Homo sapiens: one gene and its partner. The protein of the gene in region 1 interacts with the protein of each later gene in a pairwise test. Each region holds a gene or a part of one and is shown on either strand. Other genes may lie near its edges.

Region 1 (5,527 bases):
AGAGAGGCTGAGGTCCAGGAAACTGACTTGGAACTGGAGTCAGGGACCGAGCTGGTTGTCTAAGTTGTGCAGCGGGTCTGCACTCTCTTCCCCTGCGCCTGCCCCGTTCTGCCAAGCCCCAGACCCTTAGAGACTCTATCCCTCTCTCTGCCTGTCTCTGGTCTCCACTTCCCCAGCTCCAGCACCCTTGCTGTGGGCTTCCCGTTTTTCCTCTTTAAATGTATGTGGCGCCTGGTGTCCAAGGAGGCTCACACGGGGCCTCTCCCAGCAGCATTCCACAAGTGCAGGGCCTGTGGGGTGTTCAGCCTCCACCCTCCATTCTGTTTTGGCAGCTGAAGGGTGAATGTGGAGCCCTTCTCCTTGTCCTCCTCTTATAGAAATTCCACCATTAGGGACTTCCTCCCCTTGGGTGAAGCTTTGCTCACTCTGGGTCCCTTTGAAACCGCGGATCCAGGGATTTTTCTTCCAGCCACGTGCCTACTCTAAGAGTCCCGGTGACGCGGTGAAGTTCTTTAAAGGACCAGACATCCCTGAAGTCCTTACAGGGACATCCCCTTACAGGGACGAATCCATTTCCTGGAATGTGGGCAAGGAAAGGCAGCCACTTCCTGCCTCTCAAAACTCTGGCTGGTGGCTGGGTGCAGTGGCTACGTCTGTCATCTCAGCACTTTGGGAGACTGAGGTGGGAGGATCACTTGAGGCCAGGAATTGGAGACCAGCCTGGGCAACATGGTAAGAGTCCAGCTCTACAAAACACACACGCACACACACACACACACACACACACACACACACACACACACCAAAAACAACAGAAAACATTAGCCAGGCATGATGGCACATGCCTCTGGTCCCAGCTACTCGAGGGGGCTGAGTTGGAAGGATTGGATTGCTTGAGCCCAGGAGGTCGAGCCTACAGTAAGCCGTGCAGGAGGTCGGGCTACAGTGAGCTGTGCTTGTTGACCAGGCTTGTCCAGCCTGGTCAGCAGAGCGAGACCTTGTCTCAAAAACAAAACAAAAACAAAACAAGAAGATCCCCCTCCCCCCAAACTCTGCCCAGTGGCCTGACTACCAACATCCATATACAAGACAGGAGTAGGGTCAACTCCTTCCTATCAGTCACCCCTTAGTGAGAATCAGCTGGCCAAGGGGCCTCCTGCAGAGCTGATGTGTGCTTGAATGCCTAGGGCCCACGGGGATGGGGTGTGGAAGCTTCAAGCTGGGACTCAAAACAGAGTTGCCAAGGGAAGAGGAGTGGGCGACCCGAGCCCCTGTCATCAGTACTTTCACTTGGGCTGTCAGTTTTGATCTGCTTGCTTGTCCGTTTTGTCTGGGGCAGGGTCGGGTAGTTGTTTAGAGGAGGCTCAGAGGTTAAAAGTCTCAGGCAAGTCATGTCAGGGGTTGGGAGCCAGTGCTGCTGTGGCAGCAGTACAGAGAAGAAAAGATAAGCTCCCCAGCCCCGCAAGAACCTCAGCCCTGAGGCCGGAGACACAGATCTGGCCCCTTGCAATCAAGTCATTTGCATCTGACCTGGGGTCAGGCCCCTCCATGCAGGAAGTCCCCTTTCTTATCTGCAAGTCAGAGGAGGGTGAGTTCCCCAGGCTTTCAACAGGTACTTCCCCCGGCAGCGGGAAGCCCAGGAGCCCGATCAGGACCGAGGATCTCACCCCAACCCCTGCGTTTGGGCCCCGGGGTCAGCTGAAAGTTCCCCTGGAATAAACACTTCGGGTCCAGCATGCCCCTCTCCCCACTCCCGCAACGATCTTCCGAATTCAGACGCAGAGAGGGCCCGCGAGCAGAGCGGGAGGTGGTCGGAGGCGGAGGAAGGGGAGATGGGCAGAGGGTGGGCCCAGGGACCCCCAGACAAGGCCTGGACGCGGGGTTGGAGGAGGAGGCGGAGGCTGGCGGGAGGCGAGGGGCAGCCCGCAGAGGAGACGCGCTTCTCGGCAGCAACGGCGTCTGGAGCCGGGAGGGGCGGAGGTTTGGGGAGGGGGAGGGAGGGCGGGGGAGGGGAGGGACGGACGGCGGCGGAGGTGGGGCCGGCGGGCTGGCGGGCGTGCAGCTGCCGCCGGCGTCGCGGGGCTCCAGGCTGCGGGGCGGACGTAGCGCCGAGCGATCCACCGCGGAGCCGCGCGAGGCCGCCCGAGCCCCAGCCCCGGCCCCGGCCCCAGCCCCGGCCCCGGCCCCGGCCCCGGCCCCGGCCCCGGTCCCGGCCCCGAGCCCCGAGCGAGCGCCGCCGCCTCGCGCTGCGGGTCCCCGGACGCGCCGCCACCGCCGGGAAGGCAGCCGGCGCCGGGCAAGTTGCGAGCGCGCCCCTCCGACCAGGAAAGTTTCCCCCCGGCCGCCGGCGGGATTTGGCGCGGGGTCCGGCAGCCGCCGCTGGAAGGTATGGGGCTCCGCACCTCCGTGCCCTCCGCACGCCGCCGCCGCGCCCCCGGGGACCTGGGGACCCCCCCGCGCGCCGCCCCGGGGGTGCTGCTGGACGCGGCGGGGAATTGGGGTGGAGTAGGGATCCCAGGACGGAAGCCCGGCAACCAAGTTCCACTCAAACTAGCACGCGGGGGCTGGGGGGCCGGGGACGGTCTCCACCCCGTGCCTGCCCGGAGTCCGCTGAGGGCCGGGGGCTGCGCCCAGGACAGGTGCAGAGCCGGTGGGCTCCCAGTGCTCCGGGTGGAGGAGTGGGGGCTTCTGGAGAACGGCGCGGGGTGGCAGGTGTGGTTACAAGGTTCGGGGTTTCGGCCAGGGCTGCGCCCGGAAAGGGGCTGCTCGCCACGCCACCCGGTAAGACAGTGAGGGACCAGGGACTGGGAGCGGCGATCGGGGCCGGGAGGGCTGTGGGGCCCGGCAGCTGCATGGAGGGCGGGCTGCCTTTGGGGTCCCTGGCAGCGGGGCGGGGCGGGGCGGAGGCGCCACTCGTTCCTCCAGGACCCCCCTTATTCCTTAGGTGTGTGCGGTTTGGGGAAGTGGAGACTCCATGGAGTGCTGGGTGGGTGGGAGGCTCGGGCACGTCCAGATTTAGGGGGCAGTGGGAGCCAGTTGGGACGGTGCTCGGCTCGGGTGGGATCGCGCCGGCTCCGGGTCCTGCTGGAGTGAGGTGACTGGGCTCCCGCCAGGGGGCGCACTGCCCCGGCCCTCGCCAGCAGGAAGCGCGTTCTGGCTCCTGCGAGGCAACCGCGCCGACATCCAGGACGCAGGGACCACAGACACCCAACTTACGCGGGGTCCCGCCCCGAGGAGCCCGCCCTACACTAGCCAGACGGGGGAGCGGGACCAAGAGTGAGGCGAAAGGTTCACAGTTATAACTGCGCCGTGGGCTGGAAAGGCTAGGAGTCAGGATGTGATTTTTCTCGGGAAGGCTGCCAGGGCAAATGGATGAGTAAGAAATTTACCCCCAGAAAAAGATGTAAGAAACTACAACTGCGAATTGGTGCAGAGAGAGTGGGTTGGGGAATTAACTTTTTGACGGTTTTTGGAGTTGCAGAAACCCAAACCCCAAAATGCATGCACCCTTTTTGTAAAAGTTGCACCTTTGTTTCCTGGATCTGGTCGAATCCCTGTCTGGTGAAGGCAGGATGGGGGTCTTGGGGTATCCTCTCTCTGGGCACAAGTAAACTGGGAGGCACAGGGCGGGCGGTGGGGGATGGGGCCTTAAAGACTTCAGCAGTCCAGGCAGAAGTGTTAAATTTCTCAGCAGTCAACGAGCCCTGGCCCCCACCCTCATCCCCTGGGTCTGTGGTCTCTAGGCCACATTCTTCTGGTCATTTCACAATTATTGGTGGAAATCTGCCCTGGGTCCCAGTTGTCTGGCCTCAGGGTCCCTGTATGTTGAGTCTGTGTGTCTGTGCCTTGGGAAGTCGACGGCTGCTGGCATCTGTGAGGACTGTCATCTTTGTCATGTGCGGGGCTAACATTGAAGGGACATTGGAGGGACTATTGCCTCATCTTTCTCTCCAGTTCCCTCCCTCCTCCCATCACCCCAAGTGAGTGCAAAGGAGCAAATCATAGATTGTGCCGTGGCCTCATTGTGGTTGGTAGAAGTTTTCATCTTTCTCTTAGCTGGTAACCTGTGCTCCTTGGGCAGCCCCCCTCCTGCTCCCATGTCCTTAATGTCCCTTACAAAGGTGGGGGAAATGGGGGTCCCTGAAAGAGATGAGGTTCCTCTGTTCAATGTAGTCTGCCACATGTTTTTGTTGGATGCTACTGAAATGCTCCAGGACAAAGTTGCCATAAAGACAGATCAGCATGATTTTTATTTTGAATAGAAGAGGAGGAGGAGAGAGGAGAGAAAGGAAAGGGTGGAGAAGCCTGCTGTGTCTGGATAGGTCTTTAAGACATTCCAGGGGGCTGGAAAACAAAAGAAGTTTTTTTTTGTTGTGTTTTGCTTTTAGTGACTCTTGTTTTTCTGTGGAGGGAAGCCTGCATGGACCAGCCCTGCCTTGGAACCTGCCTGGGAGCATGGGGCCCCTAGAAGGCCAGCGTTTCCCGTGTTCTGTCCCTCCCCTCTTCTCCCTACCCCCACCCCACTTTTCCTGAATTGGAGAGGGAGTTGAAGGTCCCCAAGGGCTACTAAAGTCTGTGTTTGGGCTTAAAGTATCTTGTGTGGGCTCAGTCTTCTCCCAGGCAAACTCCAAGATCTCTGATTTAGCAACATTTCAAGTCTTGGGCACTCTGTTTCCTTGTCTCCCTTGTCCCCAAACCCATTCAAACAGCCAGTATATGTGGTGCTTTTACCCAACCCCAGTCTGAAATGGTAGCACATCATTGAAAGCTCCAGGACACTTTCTAGAAGCCGAAGTTAGTTGGGTTTAGGATACCTTGGGGTTGGGTTTAGGACACCTTGGGCTGAGTCCAGGAAGGAACCCTCTGCCCTTTAAAAAATGAGATTTTAATGGTCTGAGGGGTGTGTTGGAGGGCAGGGTGCTGGGTAGGGACACAGGATTAATTCAAGGATGTGTGGGAGGGGGTGCCAGGAAGAGGGAAAATAGCAGATTTGAAATCTAGCTCTTCTGAGTCATCCGTGTGGCCTTGGGCAGGTTATTTCCCCTCTTGAGCCTGCTTCCTCCGTCTGTAAAATGAATATGTTGGCTGAGGAGATTCTGAGCTATCTTGCAACTTAGAGCAGGAGAGTCTAACCTTTTAGGGGGCTGGGCAGCCCTGCTCCATTCCTTCTGCCTTCCATTCAGTGGAAGGTGCCTCTCCGGGCTGGCTTGCCTCTCTCTGCCCGCCTGTACACAGCAAAATCCTGCGTTGAGTGAATGCAGCAGCTTCAGAAACCAGCTCCTGCCATCAGAGCTGAAGGACAAAGTGCCCAGCAGTTTTGGGTAGAGAGGGGAATGTCTGTAACCAGTCCCTGCTGGGAGCCCCATGTTAGTCTGCAGGCTCGCTCCCCACTCTTCTTGGGAAGAGCCCTTTCAGTTCCTGGGGTGCAGGTTTTAGGGACCTCTCCCTTTCCAGAGGGCTGCTTTTCTGGTCTATTTCATCAGCCATTGAGAGGGAAAATCAGGAACATTTGTTCATGCTCAGCTGG
Region 2 (4,897 bases), on another chromosome or scaffold:
TTCCTCAGAGACCTAGAGGCAGAAATACCATTTGACCCAGCAATGTCATTACTGGGTATATACCCAAAGGAATATAAATCATTCTATCATAGAGACACATGCACACAAATATCATTGCAGCACTGTTCACAATAGCAAATACATGGAATCAACCTAAGTGCCCATCAATGATAGACTGGATAAAGAATATGTGATATATATACATCATGGAATACTATGCGGCCATAAAAAGGAATGATATCATGTCCTTTGCAGGGACATGGGTGGTATTGGAAGCCATTTTACTCAGCCAACTAACCCAAGAACAGAAACCCAAACACTGCATGTTCTCACTTATAAGTGGGAGCTGAATGATGAGAACACATGGACACATGCAGGGGAACAACACACACTGGAGCTTGTCAGTGGGGTTGAGGTAGTGGGAGGGAGAGCATTAGGAAGAATAGCTAGTAGATGCTGGGCTTAATACCTAGGTGATGGGATGATCTGTGCAGCAAACCACCATGGCACACGTTTACCTATGTAACAAACCTGCACATCCTGCACATGTACCCCTGAACTTAAAAGTTGAAGAAAAAAAAATCTAAAGATGAGGCTATGTCCTGTATTTCTGTGGCATTCTGGTTTCAAAATATTTTCTCAGTTATTTCATTGTCCTTTAACCTTCCTTGTGAGATAAAAAGAGGAATTATGATCACATTTTAGAGCCAGCCAGGCATGGTGGTGGGTGCCTGTAGTCCTAGCTACTTGGGAGGTTGAGGTGGGAGGAACCCTTGAGCCCAGGAGTTAAAGACCAGCCTGAACAACATAGTGAGACTTCATCTTTCTACTAAAAAAAATTAGAGCTGTGGAAAAGAGGCTTACAGAATTTGAATTAGAAAGAAACTTTTAGGATTACAAATTTTGATCTATAGTTTGAGTAAGATTACATGGCCTGCCAAACAGTCAGTTCTCAGGCATCCTGTCTCCAAAGTTGCTCAGACATCACTAGGTCATTGAACCATCATGGGACCCTGATGAGCTTGATGTAGACAACTTTAATTTTTTCCTCTGACACATAGTTAGAAGGAATATTTTGATGAGCTGTGGGGAGAGATGGTAGGACACATTGGAGATGTCAAAAACTTGGTTCTACAGAAGTGGGTCGAGTTAATTTCAGGGATTTTGTTTACTAAGCAGAATATGCAAGCTTCGGGGCCAGAATGACTTGTTCAGTACTCTTAAGAACCATGGACATGGCCTAACATATATCCAAACATTTGGATGACCCAAACACAATGGCCAATATTTGATATTTGCTTTTAAGGAAGTGTTTAGTTCTCTTTTCTAAGTATTTATCTTGACTATCTGTAATTTCTGATGTTTGTCAACCTGGACTCTAAAGCCAATATAAATTACAAAATTAAAGCCCAACCAAAGTTTAACTTTAACCTTTTATCCTTGCTGCCACAAGACATCAAGCAGGCCAAGAGGATTGGTGCTCTGTATGAAATTGTTCTTTTCCTTCAGACCTTTACATGTGTGCTGGTGGCTTTGCTATATTAAATATGAACAGACACTGAAACTCTGTCACAAAGAAGCAATAGCGTTCTATGTTTTAACTCACAGGCCAATTCTGACTAGATGATGACAGATGGTGGGTGCTCTGTGTTGTGAGAGATTAGGAACCATGTCAAGATCATCAGGAAAGAGTACTGTGATTGTAGGAGATGGAAGAGGTGGTGTATGTGCCCTATATTGGCCTCTTTCTATAGAGCATACCCTCAATTAAGGTTGCTTCTTGCCTCCATTCTGAGTTCTCTTAGGTCTTCGGCTAGTTTTTTGAGAGCCTGTTATTTGTATGGCTGAATGAGAAGAAAGTAGATTGTTCCTTAGAGTCTAGTTTGTTTGTTTAGGGTTGGAATGCTCTGTAATTATAGCTGGTACTGTTCTTGGAAAATGCGCATGGCAAGATTGGGTATATATTTGGTGCCTTATAGTTTGCTGGAGATGGCTTTGAAAGGCAATGACACTGTGAGGAGCTGAAGAGAGAATGGAGTGTTTACCTCATTATTTTGGCTGGTATGCTCTTTTTCCACAGGGTTCATGCTCACGAGTTTTGATCTATGAAGATAACAGCCAGGACAGAAATTGAACAAAGTGCACTGAAATATTCATACTACACTATGGTTATTTTAAAAAAGCTTTATATTCTAAATCTGTACTGTCCAATATTGTAACTACTGTCTACCTATAGCTATTTAAATTAATTAAAGTTAAATTAATTTCCTCAGTTGAGTACATCTTTTATGTACTCAATTGCCATATGTAGTTAGTTTTACCTACTAACTAGCACAGAAAATTCTACTGGGCAACCTTTTCTAGAATCTTGGCTTAACAGTTAAGCCATAAACCAATGTTCAGCAGGGATCTTGAGTGACTTGAAGGTGTCCTTTAGGGGCAAGGACCTACAAGTCCTAGGACCCTGGACTATATATATATAGAGAGAGGCTATATGCAGTTTTGATCTCTTGTTCTTGATCTAAGGATTTAAAAATATTTCATAAATAGAAATACTTCTTGACTGCATTAAGATTTAACTTACAGAGGGGGTCAAGAAATGGAGATGAGGTTTTTGGTTTGGATTTCTCACCATTTAGACTCTTGACAAACTCATTGTACTTTGAGGAGTGCTTTCCCATCTCTAATTTTAAATGTTCGTAGTTCAATACAGTGTACAGTTCTGATTTATATAATGTGGTAGCTGTAGTATGAGTCTAGAGATTAGTTTCATGCCTATCCCTTATGGTTGGGTGTCCATATATTTGGGGGAAGTGAGGATGGTATTAATGAAAAGGCCTTTCTGTGATATATAAGGAATACCCTACTTATCAAGGTGACTGACCACCAACTCTTTCTAAAGTACATGTTTTTACTCTTAATATCAACCCGAATAATAATGTGATAATGTGATAACATTACGAAGGGAGATGTGTTTCTGTGGTCTTTTTAGAAGGATGGGAGAATGACTGGAAGTTTTAAGTTGGTGTGATCTACTGGGGTCAACCAGATCACTAACAGAGGGCAAAGATATGTGGCGTCGGGACTCATTCAATTCCAAATAGAAATTGGTCTGAGAACTGTTTGCTCTGACTCAGGCTGAGATGGAGTTTCTACCAAAACCAGGATGTTCCTTTGCCAAAGCTCACACTTCTCTCTCAAGGAACAGAGCCTCTAGTTCTTCTTCTATTTTCTTCAACGTTTCCTGGTACTTCTTCAAAGAGAAACAAAGAAAGCCACAGTTACTACTTAGAAGGTTTACAATTTTTCTAAGCATAATAAGCACTTGTTATTACATGATACCATGAATGCTTGGTATTCCCACTGCCACTTTCTCTGCTTTCATAAAACTCACCCCCCTACTACTCTTGATCTCTCACTATGCCTTACCACTGGACAGGTTTCTGGGCATCATTGACATTATAAATAGCAGAAGTGTGAATTATTAACTTAACAGCACAGAGAGTGGGAGAGCAGGGCAGGAATTCCCAGGGAGACAAAGACAAATAGAGTGATATTGATAGTGAGGTGGGGTGCTGATGACCTTAAAGTATCCTAGTAGTGCCACCTTGAACTGTTGAAATTGCTCTGGACAGTAGTCTTTGAAAATCCTTGTTCTATTTCATCCTGTACCTTAATAAACCCTTTGCTATCCCTTTACCAAGAAGCTCTACCTTTATGTAGAGGGCTTGATCTTCACAGAGCTGGGTCACAAATGCATACTCCTTCATTACCTAGGAAATCAAAATTTAGTTGTAAATATATTTCGGTAAATTGCTATAAGAACACAAGCATACTTGTTTTCTCTTGGGTCCCAGGTCCTAAATGTGGTTTTCTAATTGTTCTAAATATGTTTTCTTTTTTGCTGTACAGATAAATGTATTTCCTTTTTTTAGGGTAAAAAAGCTAAATGGGAGTTATTGGTCAAAGGTGGAATTTGGGGGCAGTTGGGAGAGGAATAGATAGATAACTAATATTTGCGAGATACAAACTGTAGAGTGTATTCTGTAAAAAAATGTTTGAAGAGAAAGCAACCTCAGGGATTGTGCTTATCTTCCTTTTCTTTACCCCTCCCTAGCCCCATCATGGTCTTGGATCTGGAACCTTAATGTAAATCAATCACTTGAGAAATAGATTGCCTGACCAAAGATCACATTTCCCTTTTTGGGGAGAAGTCACATTGAAGTTCCTGCTGTTACCTTGAGCAGCTCCTTCTCTTGGCATGCATAGGAAGCTTCCAGCTGTTGTAACTTAACCTAAAGAAAGCAAAAGAGACTGCTAACTTGGCAAGGTAAAAGCTGTGCAGGAATGGAATGCTGTCACCAAGGTGGCCTCACGAGCTGTGAGGAGCCTCAGGGCCATGACTTCACACGTCTCCTGATAGAGGAATTAAGCCACCCAGCACCGTTTGCAGCTGCTTGGTAAACTTGCTCTTTTATATTCCTTACCTTTTAGTCTTCATCTGGTGCTAGCTTCACCCCTAAACTTCAATTCTGAGCTTCCTACTCTTACTTAGCCATTTCTCTTAAAAATAATACCAGTTTTGAAAAACTTCACTCTTCCTTTTCCTTTTAATATAGTCAGTCAGACTCTAAGGTGTTTGTTCACTCCTTTCTCCCTCCCTGTATGCCTTGCTCACCCTTTTATTTCCTTCAATACTTGGCAAAAGACCATTCTATATCAGCTGCTATGCTGGAGTGAAGCATGTGTGTATCAGGTGGCAGGGGGTAGTACTTAGGATACAGTAGTAGACAGGATGGACCAGCTTTCCACCCTTGCAGAGCTGGCATTCTGGTAGGGAGACACAACAAATACATCTACATGATAATGGTATGTGCTATGAAGGAAAAAAAATTAA

The links.
Region 2: the proteins of TSPAN18 (region 1) and TMCO5A interact in a two-hybrid assay, tested with the Homo sapiens proteins (one large-scale study listed by BioGRID).

Annotation. Positions count from the first base shown.
Region 1 is NC_000011.10:44,724,902-44,730,428, forward strand, and holds the start of TSPAN18 (tetraspanin-18), read left to right. Parts: upstream 1-2,060; 5' UTR 2,061-2,386; intron 2,387-2,494; exon of another isoform or gene 2,495-2,781; intron 2,782-5,527. UniProt on the Homo sapiens protein: Plays a role in the cell surface localization of ORAI1 and may participate in the regulation of Ca(2+) signaling and the VWF release in response to inflammatory stimuli.
Region 2 is NC_000015.10:37,940,547-37,945,443, reverse strand, and holds part of TMCO5A (transmembrane and coiled-coil domain-containing protein 5A), read right to left. Parts: intron 4,296-4,897; coding exon 4,239-4,295; intron 3,774-4,238; coding exon 3,714-3,773; intron 3,254-3,713; coding exon 3,189-3,253; exon of another isoform or gene 3,157-3,188; intron 2,104-3,156; coding exon 2,046-2,103; intron 1-2,045.